Regions from separate parts of the Homo sapiens genome. Here region 1 is linked to region 2. A link means that fine-mapping ties the variant in region 2 to the expression of a gene that starts in the linked region. Tissue or cell type: whole blood. Region 2 holds a variant in brackets; the other region holds the start of a gene. All regions are shown on one strand. Distances are between the middles of the regions.

The links. PIP is the estimated chance that this variant, and not a neighbour inherited with it, causes the effect.
Region 1: PDE4A starts here. The variant in region 2 is fine-mapped to the expression of PDE4A in whole blood (INTERVAL, PIP above 0.99). The same link has a PIP of 0.9 or more in T cells, blood mononuclear cells, lung and monocytes.

What each region holds. Positions count from the first base shown.
Region 1 is chr19:10,416,311-10,424,310 of GRCh38, reverse strand. PDE4A (phosphodiesterase 4A) reads right to left here and starts at 3,773. Exons shown (of 15, transcript NM_001111307.2): 1 at 3,227-3,773. The coding sequence starts at 3,546. RefSeq lists enhancers at 2,731-2,920, 4,101-4,980, 5,974-6,524, 6,525-7,076, 7,379-7,498 and silencers at 3,131-3,180, 3,411-3,880, 7,599-7,868.
Region 2 is chr19:10,454,589-10,462,588 of GRCh38, reverse strand. PDE4A (phosphodiesterase 4A) reads right to left here. Exons shown (of 15, transcript NM_001111307.2): 7 at 7,667-7,760; 8 at 4,487-4,710; 9 at 3,091-3,189; 10 at 2,830-2,994; 11 at 1,486-1,585; 12 at 909-1,063; 13 at 590-712. Among named protein-coding and RNA genes, the nearest start is that of PDE4A, 38 kb to the right of the region's middle. RefSeq lists enhancers at 889-1,028, 533-1,257 and a silencer at 1,219-1,398. The variant C/G (reference allele first, on the strand shown) is at 4,382.

The DNA.
Region 1 (8,000 bases), 38 kb after region 2:
GTTTTAGGGCCCAGGGAGGGGGGACGCAGGGTCCGTATGTTGGCCCCGTCCCCAGTTCAGACAGCTCCCCACCCCCACCACCAAAGTCCTCCTCTTCCTCCCTCTCCATCTGCCTCTTGACAGATCGTGGCTGTGCCGTGACTCAGCCGTCTCATACATCTTCAGGTCTGGAGGGGAGGTTTGGATGACATCTCCGGTTGGGGGTGGGCAGTGCCCTCTCTCTGGGGATTCCTTTGACCCAAATCGGGGGAGCTCGCTGGACTCCTTTTGCGGTAGCTGGATGAACTCCAGTGTGGGGAGCACTGAATCCTGTATGTGCCCTGGTAAAAACCCCCTTTTTGAAGAAATGCCTGTTCTAAGCATTGAGGTTGCCATCAGACACCTTCCTCCTTTTCCCTGGGAATGGGGGAGGACCCTGGCACTGATGCCAGCTACAGCCCACCCATCAGTCCCAGCTTTGGACCTCAGCACAGACACTGAAGGGTGCACAGGCCCACAGTGAAACAGAAACCCGAGTCTACGTGGGGATGTGGTTAAGGTTCCTGTTTTTTTCTACTCACCCTGGAGAAATGGGATCCACCCAGGTCCCCCCTCCTTAGTCCAGGTCCCTGAATGGAGATCTACTGATTATGTTAAGTCCTTTACACACATCTCCAAGCTCACAGAACCCTCAAAGTGACCCCCACATGGCAGTGCCAACAAAAGCCCCACTCTACAGACTGGAAAATTAAGGCTCAGAGAGGGCAAGACACTTATACAAAGATGCACAGGAATTGGGCGGACCTGCGTTGCAATTCCAGCTCCCCCATCTCCTGGTTGTGTGAGTTTGGGTGAGAAAGAGAAAAGGTTTAGCTGGGTGCAGTGGCTCATGCCTGTAATCCCAGCACTTTGGGAGGCTAAGGGGTGGGCAGATCACCTGAGGTCAGGAGTTCGAGACCAGCCTGGCCAACATGGTGAAACCCCATCTCTACTAAAAATTCAAAAATTAGTCAGGTGTGGTGGTGGGCGCCTGTAATCCCAGCTACTCCGGAGGCTGAGGCAGGAGAATCACTTGAATCCGGAAGGCAGAGGTTGCAGTGAGCTGAGATCACGCCACTGCACTCCAGCCTGGGTGACAGAGGAGACTCTGTCAAAAAAAAAAAAAAAAAAAAAAGAGAAAGGGTTTTGTCTCTGGGCTCCAGTTTCTCCATATGCCAGCAGGAATACCCTGCTGGAATACCCAGGGCACTGGGGATGAGGATGCATATGGAAAAGTCCCTGGCATGGAGCCGGAGGGTGAGCCATTGCGAGATGGATACCCACCAAAATAATGATGATTATTACCACTCAGCCACTGTCCCCTAAGACTCAGTGCCCCAGAGACCAGGCTAGGAGGAGTCCCTGGAGCCTTGCAAAGAAATGGGGCCTGGAACCTACTTCACTTCACCCACCCCTTGGTGTCTTAGGACAGTGACCTGTGCCAGTTTGGCCCCCTGCCCCAGTTTTAGCATTTTCTGTTGATTCCAACTTTCTCTTCCTTCAGCCTCTCTCCAGTTCCCTTTGGGAAATGTCAGCCCATGTATGCTGGGCCCGTGACACTTGCTTCCTGGTGGGTAGAAGGGTGCAGGGGGACTGGGGCTGGGGGGTGATCAGAACAGAGGTGGGGGTGGCCTGGAGGGCTGCAATGACTGCTGAAGACCCCCAAAGAGACTTAGGAAGAGTAGGGCTACATCTTAGAGAGGCCTCACTCAGGAGCTCCAGGGATAAGGAGCCCAAATCTGACCGTCTTGGTGATATCCCCAGCAGTGGGGCATCCAGGTAGAGCACACGGGCAAAGCTGTCAGTTGCACACATCGCTGGAGCACAAGCAATCAGACCCTGGAGCACCATCAGAGGAGGAACAATAACTAAGAACACCAGGTGGTTAGAGGACACCAGTTCTTAGGATACACCAGGCAGAGGGAACACAGACCACATGTCAGAGCACCGACGCTCAGACGTGAGCACCTGGTGAAGACTAACACACAGCCACTGTGTTTCAATCACAGTGTCCAAGGAGCACAGACTGTTCCACGAACTCAATCACATTGTTCCCCAAGTGTAAACACCCCAGTGCCACAATCACTGCATGCCAGAAATGACACTGTCACAATCACATTGTCCCTAGACCACCAACACCATTGCACAATCACTGTCCTAGGAGCAGAAACAGTCACTCTATCCCAATCACTGCATCCCATGAGGCCACAGTCACCCTGTGACAGTCACAGCATTCTTGGAGCACACACAGTCACTGTCGCAAACCCTGTCCCAGAAACACACAGTCACACTACCCTGGAAATACACAGTCACACTGTCACAATTACACTGTCCCTGGAGGACACAGAGTCATCGTGTCACCATCACAAGACCCCAGAAGCTCACACAGAGCACACAACTGAGGTAGCCACAGCTGGTCATACCCGGACAGCTGGAGCAAACGGAGGTCAATCGGAGAATACCCTCAGAGGAGACCAAGCTCAACACACATGCACCCTCACTATGCTGTCACCTCTGCAGTCAGGGACTCCTTCCCTCTGTGCTGGGACTGCGCCCCCCCTCCACTGTTTCCTGCCTCTGAACAGCTACTTAACGCTAACACTCTTGCCCTGAGAGGGGAACTCCAATCTAACGCAAGGCTCCCAAAACAGTGCTCCCCCAAGAGGCACCCTCTGGATTTCTGACCCCAGCTGCTGCAGGAGGAGTCCACTAACATCCCCGCAATAGAGTCCTCCATCCCCTAGAAGGACCCTGAGAGCACCCCACCCTGAAGTAAAGATCCTGGTCCTAGCAGGCACCCCCTTATGGAGTGCTCCAAGAGTACCCCAAACACTGCGAATCTAGCCCTCAGTATAGTGCCCCCAGGAAGGTCCCTCCAAGTGGTTCCCAGCTTAGCAGCTGTTCTGCACTGTCACCAAGAATACAGACCCCTAAGTGTGCAGCCCCCTTCCCCAACCCAGACCTCGTTAACACCACGCGCAGCGTGGCGCCCCCTAAATGGACCCCAGGATGGGCTTCAGCAGGAAGCCTCCCGTAGAGCGCACAACCAGGGGCCAGGTCCCAGACGCCCCCGCAGCCGAATTCCCTCCGCCCCCGCCAGCCAAACCGACCCCACCCGCATCCTAGCGCCCCCTGCGGCCGGCAGCTCGAGTTGCCTCCTCCCTGCGCGCCCATCCGTTCCGCGCGCATCCGCCGCGGGGAGTCTTACCGCCTGCTGCTGCCTCCGCCCGCGCCGCCGCTGCCGGTGCCAGTGCCATGGAAGGACGAGGGCCAGGACATGCGGGTCGTGCGCAGGCCGGGCCGGTCGCTGGTGTCCATGGCATCGGCGCGCTCTATGGGCCGGTGCGGCTGCCGCTCCCGCTCGGCGCGCTCCGCGCTGTCGGAGTAGCCGCGCTGCTGGATACGGATGGGGGTCCGAGGCTGCCGCCACAGGTGCTGCGGGGGAGGCTTCAGGGTGGCCTGGCCCTCCCGGGGCCCGGGCAGTGACAGAGACAGGCTCCTTTCCGAGGGGACGGTCGGGGGTTCCATGGCGCCGGCCCCCACTTGCGCCCCAGGGGGCCCTGGCCCTTCCAACCTACACCCCGCTCAGCTGCGCGCAAGCCAGCGAGCCCAGGGCCCCGCGGGTGCGCCCGGCCGCGGTAGGGCCATGGCGCCCCGGGGACAGACCCGGGGGCGCTGCGGGCCAATCGCCCCCGGGCCGGGCTCTGCAGCTTCCTTTCGGCGCCTGGAGCTCTGCTCAGTGCCCGGCGGCGCTCTCCGCGCTCCGCGCTCCGCGTTCCGCGGCCCGCTCGGCGCCAGCCCCGGCTCCTCCGCCCCGTCCCGCCCCTCCCCGCCCCCCGCCCGCCGCGGCTGTCAGCGCCGCCCCCCTCCTCCTCCGTCCGGGCCAGCGGGGGGCAGCTACCTAAGGAGGGGGGCCCTTCCCGCCCACGCAGATCCCCGCTCCGGGCTGGGAGGGGGCGCTGGAACTCGTCTGTCTTCAAAGCACCCTGCTTGGCCGCGGCGCGCACAGGCACGAAGGAGTTAAACGGTTAATCCGATCTGGAAGCAGACACCGGACTGGTTGCCAGAGTGTCAGTCAGTCGGTCCATCATGGCGAGGGCGGAGTCCGGTGTTGGCGTGTCCTCGCCGCTACCCCTGGCGGGGGGCAGTTTTTGAGGAGTGGTCCTAGTGCCACCGGCGCGGTACCTGCAGCGGGCGGCGGCAGAGTGTGTGGGATCTCCTGTCTGTGCGTCGGAGGATAGTGATGGTGCGGGCCCGGGGCGGGATGTGCGCGCACGTGGCCTCTTCCGAGGGTTGTCTGTGTTTTCAGTGTCGGCTGGAAGTGTGTGTGCGCACGTGGTTGGCTGCTGTTGTCTGCCCGTTTCTCTGGATTTGGCTGTGTGTATAACTGTGTGTGTCTGTGGGTGAAGGATGTGTGCGCACATGTGCTACCTATTTGGAGGATGTGCATCCCTACGTGGTCTTTTTTCAGGTGGCCTGGGGACTGTGAATGTGTTCTCAAGCGCTTGGATGCGTTTGTGGTCGGTGTGTGCTTGCGGAGTTGTGCACGCGATTCGGCCTCTGTCGTCTGACTGTAGTGTCGGAGGACGTCTATGTATGTTAGTGTGTGCGTGTGCGTGAGTGTATGTGTGTGGTCGGCCTGGGGCCTCTGGGGTGTTTCTGGGGTGTGTCCCATTGGTTCCCTTGTGGCTCCAGGAAGACACCCTGTGGCGGATACCGCAGCTGCCGGCCCACCGCTCTATACATCGCTGCCTCTTCTAAAGCGCTTCTGCCAGAGGTAAACTGAGGAAGGTCCCAGGTAGCCGCGGAGCGCACCCCCGTGCCCTTTTCAGGCGAGTAAACAGGCGAGCCTCCTCCCTGCGGCCCCCGCCAGCAGAGCCCCCCTTCCGGCACCTAAATCGGGAGTCGCCGTGACTCACGCTCCCGCCTCCCCCAGCGCCGCGCCGAGCGAGCAAGCAGAGAGCGAGCGGGATCCGAGTGCGCCCCCATCCCCCTCAACCCCCCCAAGGATGGCTGCTGGGCGGGGGGAGTGCACGCGCCCGCGTGTCCCACCGCCCCCCCCCCCCACGCCGATAAGAGCTCGAACGCGAAACTGCTCTGCTGCGGGACCCGGGGACCAGACCCCTGCCCCCGTGCGCCCCCTGTCACGGGCTCCCCAGGGCACGCGATGCCGTTTGCCACCGCCCTCCCCCCGCGCCCTTCTCCTTATTTGAAAAAAAAAAAAAAAAAAAAAAAAGACTGCCGGTCTTCAACCCCCACAGCCACTTTTCTCCCCGCCAGAGGGGGCTCCCGGCGTGGGCGAACGCCGAGCAAAAACCGGCCCCCCCATCAGCAGCCGCCGGGTATTCCAAGGGCCAAAACTGTGTTCCCCACTTCTCTCAGGAACACCCCCCCCATTACACACTCAAAACGGCTTCTAGGGAATTTGCAGGGGCTGTGAGTTCTCCCCAGATCATATTTGAGAGTCCTGGGCTGGGCCAAATTCTTGGCGGGGTATGCTGTAACGTTGGTTAGAGATCTGGAAGCGGGTGGGAGTGCGTAATGTGAGGTGGGTGGGGGTGTCAGGACACAGCTGGGGTTGCAGAAGAAGGAGGAAACGAGGAGCGGTGGCCTGAGCTGGGGGATAAACTGATCTGGACCTGAGGCTAGTGGGATGGGCGTGGAGAGGTATAATTAAGCAGCTCCAGGGGCGAGAGACAGTCACTTGCTCTCCCTATCTGGAAATGAACCATTGGACCATGACGGAAACAGAGACCCTGGAACCCTCCAATTGAGTAGATGGGGGTGGGGGTGGATTGGAACTGCCGAAAGCGGTGACCAGAGGAGGGCATGGGGGCAGGGGCCGGCCAGAAGCCAGGACCAGCTCAGCTGTCTGACTTTCCAGCTCATTCTTGAGCCAAGAGGGGGGTTGAGTACTCTGGGAAACTGGTTGGGTACCTGGAAGGTCCCCAGATGAGAATCAGCAGGAGGTGCTGTGTGAACCCAGAGCTCGCAGATATTTCTCACATCTCCCCAGGAGAAAGAAAAATACTAGTCCAGACCCCTTCCAAGACTCCACCATCCCCTTCAAGGCGGAGAAGAAACCTGATCCTCCCAGGCGGGGACATGAAAGCCGGTGCACAGCCGCCTGATCAACCTGCCCCAGCTCTGTGAATATGGGAGCATCTTGGGGGCTGGAGACATGACACCCCTTTCCTCAGTCCTGCCCCTTGCTGACTCAGGCAGCTGGAAAATGAAATAAGGGGTTCCTAGAGCCTGCGAAGGGTGCCTTGGGGTAGGGGTGTCACAGCCCGCCACAGGACAAGTTGCAGCTAGTTTTGCAAACGGCAGGGAGCATGGAGATCGGGAAGGGCTGGTGGCTGGACCTAGCCCAGTTGGCACTGTGCCTCCCCAACCCACCTCCCACTCTGCTCCCTCTCCTACCTACCTGTCGTTCTCGGCCCTGGTGATGGAAATCCGCGGTGGGATCAGCAGCGGCAGGGTGGTGGGCCGTGGCGGCAGAGGGACCCCAGGGTCCGAGGGCTCAGGCTGGGCCCAGCCCAGGCCAGGACCGGACGAGAGGCGGCGGCGAGGGCGACGCAGGTCGGCCCCCAGCATGTTGGCACGGTCGGATTCGGGGGTCTCCCTCGACCTCTGGGGAGGGACAAAGTGGAATAGGGGCGTGGCCTGGCTGGGAAGCTCTGAGCCCCTCTCCCCAAGAACACCCCTACCTAGCTGTCTAAGGGAGTAGTTAATGGCGGTATAGGCTCCCCTTCACGTGTGAGCCACTCGCTGACCCCTCACACAGAGGGTGCCCTGCCATCCCTTAGGTCTGAGAGTGCCCCTTCTCAGCCATAATTTTTGTGGGGTCCCCTCTCGATGCCCCAGCCTTGGGGTCTGTCACATCTAGACATTCTGTCTCAAGTGTGAGACCTCTCTAACACATCACCTTTTTAGGGTCTCTTCCCAACCTCCACGTCTAAGAGGGCCCCTCTTGGTCTTAATGTCAATGCCCCCCTCCCATCCCTCACATCTGAGACTCTCAAGACCTCACCACCCCTAGCGCCCCCTCCCACCTCCTCGCCAAAATCCTCTCCTCATTTGAGAAGCCTTTGCCTGCTGTCCCTGGGCCGGCTGAGAGCCTCTTAGGGCAGCAGGAGAAAAAATGGAATCAAGGGGGTAAACTGAGGCACGAGGGGACCAAACTCCTCACAGCTTGGAGGTAGTGAAGCCACGTTCAGGAAATAGCCGTGGTCACTAGAGGGCGCTAGTCTCCCCCAAGGGGCGAAGCCCCGCCCCTAGCCCAAGCCCCTCCTCTCGCACCTCGTCCCCGGTCCCTGCCACGGACAGGGCACTGCGACTCCTCTTCATCTCGCCAACCTAGCGCGCCGTTGGGACTGCGGTGGCCATGTCGGCAGGGCCAGGGCCTCCTACAAGACCAAGCCAAACGCATCTGCCATCAGTGCCCCAGGGCTCCCCCTGCCGGTCGGGCCTAGAACCCGCCCCCGCCACTTGCCTATTGCCTCTCCTGGGGCGTGACGTCAGCGGACTGACGCACCACCAATGTGGTGACGTCGCCCCCGTTGCCAGGGCGACAGCTGACGCACGGCTGGGCTCCTGACGGCGTCAATGCCGGGGTTGGCCACTGGGGGGCCGAGAGCCTCCGGGCCCGGGTCGCCCCAGCCCCCACCCTTCCTCCCGCGGGGGCTTCCCCGGCTCGGGGATCCCGCAGAAAAAACTGGGAGCTCCCAGAGCTGGCCGCGTGCGGCGCGTGGTCCGAGCCGGGGGCCGGAGGAAGCGTCTCCTCCGAGCTGTTGGGCTTTTAAGCCTTAAACCCGAAATAGCTCCGATGTGCGGGGGCCGGGCGCAGAGAGACGGCGGCTTGGGCACAGATGGGGGACGCACAGGCAGAGGCGCGTGGAGACAGACAGGGACGTGTGGAAATAGAAACAGACAGACAGGGACACAGACGCCGTTCCCGAAGACGGGTGCGCTCTGCAGCC
Region 2 (8,000 bases):
GCACTTTGGCAGGCCAAGACAGGAGGATAACTTCAGCTCAGGAGTTTGAGACCAGACTGGGTGACATAGTGAGACCCCAACTCTCCTTTAAACATACAAAGTAAATAAAAATAAATTTAAAAAAAGAGGGCTGAGCGCGGTGGCTCACGCCTGTAATCCCAGCACTTTGGGAGGCCAAGGCGGGGGGCGGGGGGGGATCACCTGAGGTCGGGAGTTCGAGACCAGCCTGACAGACATGGAGAAACCCTCTCTACTAAAAGTACAAAATTAGCTGGGCATGGTGGCGCATGCCTGTGATCCCAGCTACTCGGCAGGCTGAGACAGGAGAATCGCTTGAACCCGGGAGGCGGGAGGCGGGAGGCGGGAGGCGGAGGTTGTGGTGAGCCAAGATGGCGCCATTGCATTCCAGCCTGGGCAACAAGAGCAAGACTCCGTCTCAAAAACAAACAAACAAAAAAAAAGAAAGAAGGACACAGGAAGATGGGCCACTTGGGAGAAAGAGGCTGAGGAAGGGGCAGTTAGCTACCCAGACCTAAAGGTGTGGCTGGGGGAGTGTCCTCCCTCCTTAGATGATGGGGCGTGGGGGCACCTGGATGCGGTCGGAGTAGTTATCTAGCAGGAGGACCCCTGAGCTGGTCACTTTCTTGGTCTCCACCATGGTCTTCAGGTCAGCCAGGAGGGTCATGTGCTTGGACATGTCCGTGGCCAGCACCTGCGGGCAAGGGGGCGTCACTGGGGCCGCTGACACCCGCCCCCCAGACTGACCCGGGCCTCTGAAGTTTTCACCAGGTAGAAGCCGCCCGCTCTGTCCAGGTTGAGGGTTCCTCTGGGACTCAGACCCACTCCTCCCCAAAGCCCTCGACTCCTAGGCTTCCTTTCCCGCTCCGTCCCGCCCCAGCCCCGCCCACCATGTCGATGACCATCTTGCGTAGGCTCTGCCGCTGGCGCTTGCTGAGGTTCTGGAAGATGTCGCAGTTGTCCTCCTGCAGCAGCTTGAAGCCCACGGCCAGGTGGTGATTCTCGAGCACCGACTCATCGTTGTACATGAGCGCCAGCTCCGAATCTGCAGCCCAGCCCGGAGGTCAGGGGAGGGCCCACGTGTGCAGCTCCAACCGCAGGAGGGCCAGCTCCGCCCCCAACTAGCTAACCCCTCCCCAGCCCGGCCAGCCTCGCCTCCAGCCCAGTCAGCTCTACCCCAGCCCGGCCATCCCCTTTCCAGCCCAGCCAGCCCCGCCCCCAGCCCCGCCTCCTGCCCGTTCATCCCCTTTCCAGCCCAGCCAGCCCCGCCTCCTGCCCGGCCATCCCCTTTCCAGCCCAGCCAGCCCCGCCCCCAGCCCCGCCTCCTGCCCGGCCATCCCCTTTCCAGGCCAGCCAGCCCCGCCCCCAGGCCAGCCAGCCCCTCCTCCAGCCTAGTTAGTTCCGCCCCCAGCCTGGCCAACACCGCCTCCAACTCAGCAAACCCCGCCCCTGGCGAGGGCCACTCACTGGTGTTGATGAGGAACTGGTTGGAGACCCCAGGGTGATCCACATCGTGGATGGCAGCCGCGAAGAGGGCGGCGAGAATCTCCAGGTCCGTGAACACTGCCTGGGAGCAGAGACACGGATGTTAGAATAACAGAGTTGAAGCCATGCATGGTGGTGAGCACCTGTTTGTCTCACCTACTTAGGAGGCTGAGATGGGAGGATCACTTGAGCCTAGGACTTCAAGGCCAGAAGTTCGAGGCCATCCTGGGCAACATAGCAAGGCCCTGTCTCAAATTTAATTTTCTTTCTTTTTTTTTTTTTTTTTTGAGACAGAGTTCTGCTCTTGTTGCCCAGGTTGGAATGCAGTGGCACGATCTTGGCTCACTGCAACTTCCCCATCCTGGGTTCAAGCAACTCTCCTGGTTCAGCCTCTCTAGTAGCTGGGATTACAGGCTCCCACCACCACGCCCGGCTAATTTTTAAAATATTTTTGGTAGAGACAGGGTTTCGCCATGTTGGCCATTTCTGACCTCAGGTGATTCACCTGCCTCAGCCTCCCAAAGTACTGGGATTACAAGTGTGAGCCACCGTGCCTAGCCCCCCGCAATTTTTATTTTATTTTTTTTGAGATGAAGTCTCACTTTGTTGCCCAGGCTGGAGTGCAGTGGCGCAATCCTGGCTCACTGCAACCTCCACCTACTGGGTTCCAGCGATTCTCCTGCCTCAGCCTCTGGAGTAGCTGGGATTACAGGCGTGCCCCACCACGCCCGGCTAATTTTTGTATTTTTAGTAAAGACAGTGTTTCACCACGTTGGTCAGGCTGGTCTCAAACTCCCGACCTCAGGTGATCCACCCATCTTGGCCTTCCAAAGTGCTGGGATTACAGGTGTGAGCCACCGCACCTGGACTAAAACTTTTTTTTTTTTAAGAAATAAGATTTTTGACCGGGCACAGTGGCTCACGCCTCTACTCCCAGCACTTTGGGAGGCCAAGGCGGGCTGATCACGAGGTTGGGAGTTTGAGACCAGCCTGTCCAACTTGGCGAAACGCCATCTCTACTAAAAATATTATAAAAACTTAGCCAGGCGTGGTGGTGGGCACCTGTAGTCCCAGCTACTCAGGAGGCTGAGGCAGGAGAATCACTTGAACCCGGGAGGCAGAGGTTGCAGTGAGCTGAGATCGTGCCACTGCACTCTAGCCTGGGTGGCAGAGCAAGACTCCGTCTCAAAAAGAAAAAAAAAAGAGAGAGAAATGGCGTCAAAGAGAGATGGAGGTCAGAGACACAGGGTCAGAGAGACACACAGGAGGCTGAAGAGGCAGTCACAAAGAGAGATGGGGACGGTCACTCACAGGGCAGTCACTCACATCTAGTGCAGGCGTGGCCAGCAGTACGTGGGTGGACTGCAGCACGTCAGCTGCGTGCAGGCTGTTATGGTAGGCCACGTCAGCGTGGTAGTGATCCTCCAGCGTCAGCATGTATGTCACCATCGTGTCCACAGGGATGCGGAATTTCTTCAGCAGGTCCCGCTCCTGAGAGCAGGCAGGGGCAGGGTGGTGACCTCCACCGGCCTCCAGCGCCCCGCTATGAGCCCCTCACCCGGGCCCACTCCCAGCTGTCCCCATCACCTGGAATATCATGTACATGATGCAGGTGAGTGAGCGGCCTCCAGCGTAATCCGACACGCAAAAGATGTTCAGGCCCCACTTGTTCAGGTTCTCCAGTTCCTGGTGGAGACGGAGGCCAGAGGTCAGAAGCCTGTAAGGCTCAGGGCCCTGGAGAACATTTCCTAGGAGTTTGAAGCCTTGGTCTGAAGGAAGCACCATTATTGCTCACCCAGTGGGTGACAGGTTCAACAGCACAGAATGTACTGCCCTCGTCCTACTGGGCTGCAAAATAGCGAAAGCAATCACAGCCACTGTCTTTTGAGTACTTATGATCTGCCAAGTATTGCTCTAAGCACTTGATCTCGTTTGGCAGGTGAAGGCACCAAGGCTCAGAGAGGCGATGTGACTTCTCCAAGATCATGCAGCTCATAAGTGGCAAAGCTAGGATAGGAACCCAGCACGACTGGCCCCAGCACAGCTCAGCCTCTTAGCTAAGCTGTTCACGAGCCCCAGGGGAGAAAGGAAGAAGGGCTTATTTTCCATGTCTCTCCAAAATTCAGAAAAGGGCCAGCACATAGTAGCTGCTTAATAAACACCAGTTGGCCAGGTGCAGTGGCTCACGCCTGCAATCCCAGCACTTTGTGAGGCTAAGGCGGGTGGATCACTTGAGGCCAGGAGTTCGAGACCAGCCTGGTCAACATGGTGAAACCCCATTTCTACTAAAAATACAAAAATTAGCCAGGTGTGCTGGCACAGGCCTTTAGTCCCGGCTAGTCAGGAGGGTGAGGCAGGAGTATTGCTTGAACCCAGGAGGTGGAGGTTGCCTTGAGCCGAGATCACACTACTGCACTCCAACCTGGGCAACAGAGCGAGTCTCCATCTCAAAATAAATAAATAAATAAAAATAAATAACTAAAGGCCAGGTGACTGAATGGAAGATTCACTGGAGGAGGTGGCTCAAAGAGGGTTACAATAAGCCTCAGCTGAGTGAGCCACCAAAGATGGATCACTTCCACTGCCGCTGTCCCCTGGAAGAGCTAGGAGTGAAACACCGGTCTGGACTGTTGGGGACACTATGGGGGCACAGTCTGGATTAGCGTCACTGCTGTGTACACCAATCCCTCTGCAGCTGGGAGTGTTGCCTGCTAAGGCTCACAGCTGCCTGCATTTCCAGAAGACTAGTCCCAACAGGAGCTACATGCAAGAGGTGATACGTCCAGCCCTGGGGACGGCCCCCAAGCAATGAATGATACAGAGGTACAAAGAGCCAGCATGCTTGCCTCAAGATGGGCTCAAACCCTCATCTCAAGCT[C/G]TGCTTCTGGGAAACCTGGCCTAAGACATAACCCAATGCCCAGTCCTTCTCAGGGTCCCAGGAGACCACCCCCTCCAGCCCTGCCCCTACTGAGCCCCCACCCACTTGGGCCAGGAGCTCTTCTTGATCGGTCTTCACCCCAAATCGGGGAATGTTAGAGTTGTTCAGGCTGTTACTATGCATCAACTTTTTCAACCCTGTGATTTGGGACATGGGCTGTAAGTGTGGTACAGGGGGCGGGGGCGGCTGGGAGGGTCTTGGTCGCGGCGCTTGCTGTTTTTCTCGTTCCTTCATCGTGGGTGATGGGATCTCCACTTCATTCTGTTTGTCTGCAGAAGATGGGGAGCAGGAACAAGTGTGAACAACCCTTCCACCCCTGGAGGCTCCCTTATTCTTCAGCCCACTACCACGTACGGGGAAGGCTCACCCGAAACGGCAGAACCCTTTCAGCTGTGATGCCGCTGGCTACTCAGAGTCAGGAAACCAGAGGGGATGTGGGAAATCTTCCAGGAGGTGGTGGGCTGGAGTGGGGGCCCAGGGCTCTGGGATGGCCCCGGTCTGATCATCAGATATGGATGGAGAGTGGTGTGGGAAGTCAGAAAGCGAGGTGGGGATGCCAGGGAGAGCCGCTGCCTACCCCGAACACCCAGGGAACCTTTCTGGGTGGGGAAGATCCCAGCATGGGGGCCAAGAGTGCTGGTGTGGGGGGTGGCATCACTGGGAAGAGAGAGGGAAGGGTGGTCTCTGGCTCCATGTCCCTGCCCCCCCCCCCCCCCGCCCACCTTGGCACCAGCCTGCCTGGGGGACAGCCCCAGGAACCCTTTTCCTGAGCTTTCAGGGGCTTCCAGAGCTGAGCCAAGGTCACCCATTGTGACCTGGAGCTAGCTAGTCAATGAAAAGGCCTAATACGGGTCATTTACATGTTATGCTCCCATTGGGTGGATCCTCAGAACTCAGAGACACACCCTCACTGGTGGGAGTACTGGAAACACCGAACACTTTTTTTCTTGAGACAGAGTCTCGCTCTGTCGCCCAGGCTGGAGTGCAGTGGCACGATCTCTGGCTCACTGTAGCCTCCACCTCCCGGGTTCAAGCGATTTTCCTACCTCAGCCTCCCGAGTAGCTGAGATTACAGGCACCCGCCACCGCGCCCGGCTAATTTTTACATTTTTAGTAGAGATGGAGTTTCATCATGTTGGCCAGGCTGGTCTTGAACTCCTGACCTCAAGTGATCCGCCTGCCTCGGCCTCCCAAAGTGCTGGGATTACAGGCGTGAGCCACCGCACCCAGCCCCAACACTTTTCTTGAGCTTGTCTGGGCGGTTCCCGAATTTGGGGGCCTTTGGAGTGTAGTGATAAACTGCGAGGATTAAATTATCCTGAGTTTGGGGGAATATCTCTAGCTTGAGGGTTTTGAGGTACCCATGAACTTAAGGGTTCCAGTGAAATCGGGGTATTCTGGTGCATTTGGGGTTCCATTGAATTAGGAATCTTACAGGTGTTAGTTTTTTTGAGACAAGCTGGAGTGCAGTGGCGCAATCATGTCTCACTGCAGCCTCGAACTCCTGGGCTCAAGTGATCCTCCTGCCTCAGCCTCCCAGGTAGCTGGGACCACAGGCACACGCCACCATGCCCGACTAGTTTTTTATTCTATTTATTTATTTATTTATTTATTTTTTTTTTGAGATGGAGTCTCACTCTGTCACCCAGGCTGGAGTGCAGTGACGCTATCTCAGCTCACTGCAACCTCCATCTCCCAGGTTGAAGCAATTCTCCTGCCTCAGCCTCCTGAGTAGCTGAGATTACAGGTGTGTGCCAACACGCGCAGCTAATTTTTGTATTTTTAGTAGAGATGGCGTTTCACCATGTTGGTCAGGCTGGTCTTGAACTCCTGACCTCATGATCTGCCCACCTCGGCCTTCCAAAATGCTGGGATTACAGGCGTGAGCCACTGCGCCCGGCCTAGTTTTTAATTTTTTTTGTAGAGACAGATTCTCACTATGTTGCCCAGGCTGGTCTTGAACTCCTGGGCTCAAGCGATCCTCTTTTCTCAGCCTCCCAAAGTCCTGGGATTATAGGCAAGAGCTGCCTCTTCCTGCCTCTTACAGGTTCTTAAGCTTGATAATCTTCTAGAGATTAGGGTTCTAACATTTTGGGAGTCTACTGAATTGGGGGGGGGTCATACCAAGTTTGGAGATCCTATTGAATTTGGGGGTTTTTCAGTTTGGAGGTTGCTAAAGTTGGGGGGCCTTTTGTGGACTCGGAAGCACAGAACTTCCCTTAAGTTTGAGAACTCTACTGAGTTTGGGCATCTCTCTTGAGTTTGGGTGTGTCTACTGAGTTTGGAAGGGAGTCAATCCAAGTTTGGAAATTCTATTGAATTTGGGGTTCTACTCAGTTCAGGAGGCTTTTCAGCTTGGAGGCTTTTTTTTTTTGTTTATTTTTTGAGACAGAGTCTCACTCTGTTGCCCAGGCTGGAGTGCAGCAGTGGCGTGATCTCAGCTCACTGCAACCTCTGCCTCCCGGGTTCAAGTGAGTGCTAAAACAAAGAGGTGTTTGTTTGTTTGTTTGTTTTGAGACGGAGTCTCACTCTATTGCCCAGGCTGGAACGCAGTGGTGTGATCTTGGCTCACTGCAACCTCTGTCTCCTGAGTTCAAGAGATTCTCTTGCCTCAGCCTCCCAAGTAGCTGAGATTACAAGCACACACCACCATGCCCGGCTAATATTTTTTTTTTTTTTTTTGAGACAAGAGTTTCACTCTTGTTGCCTAGGCTGGAGTGCAATGGAGCGATCTCGGCTCACTGCAACCTCCACCCCCTGGGTTCAAGCGATTCTCCTGCCTGAGCCTCCTGAGTTGCTGGGATTACAGGCACCCACCACCATGCCTGGCTAATTTTTTGTATTTTTAGTAGAGATGGGGTTTCACCATGTTGGCCAGGCAGGTCTCAAACTGCTGATGTCAAGTGATCCGCCTGCCTCAGCCTCCCAAAGTGTTGGGATTACAGGCGTGAGCCACCGCGCCCGGCGCTTGGAGGCTTTTTAAAGTTTAGAAGGGTTTTAAGCTCACAGATGATTTCAGATGTTGGGCTCTATAGAAGCTGGGGGTCCCACAGAGTTTGGAGGCATCAGGAACATGAGGGTTCCTGGATAGGGTGACTGTGACCTTTGGGGAGTTGAGAGTCAGAGTCCCTGGGAAGATGTGAGCAACAGGACCCACGGTCAGGGGCAGCCCCCTCTCTACCCCAAATGTCCCCCCTCCAATCCCACGTGCTTCCCCTCACTCACCCAGGAATGTTGTGGAAATGTACTCTGAGACCTGGTTTCCGGACCTGCTCATTTCTGACAGGTGTGTGAGCTCACGGTTCAACATCCTTTTGAACTAAGGTAAAGGAGTCAACAAGGAAGAAATGATGGGGGAAGCACAGTGGTGAGGAGGGTGTCAGTCCTTCCCAAGAACGCCTGAAGACCCCATGAGTCCCTCCTATTTTTCTGCTCAGCCAACAGAGCCCCTATAAGACTGCTGGGGGGTTGGGGTCAGCCTTTCCTGTCCTCCCAGCTCTGGATGGAGGTCCCCAGGTTTGGGGAGTCATGGTCAGCATAACCCTCCCTGCCTGAGGAA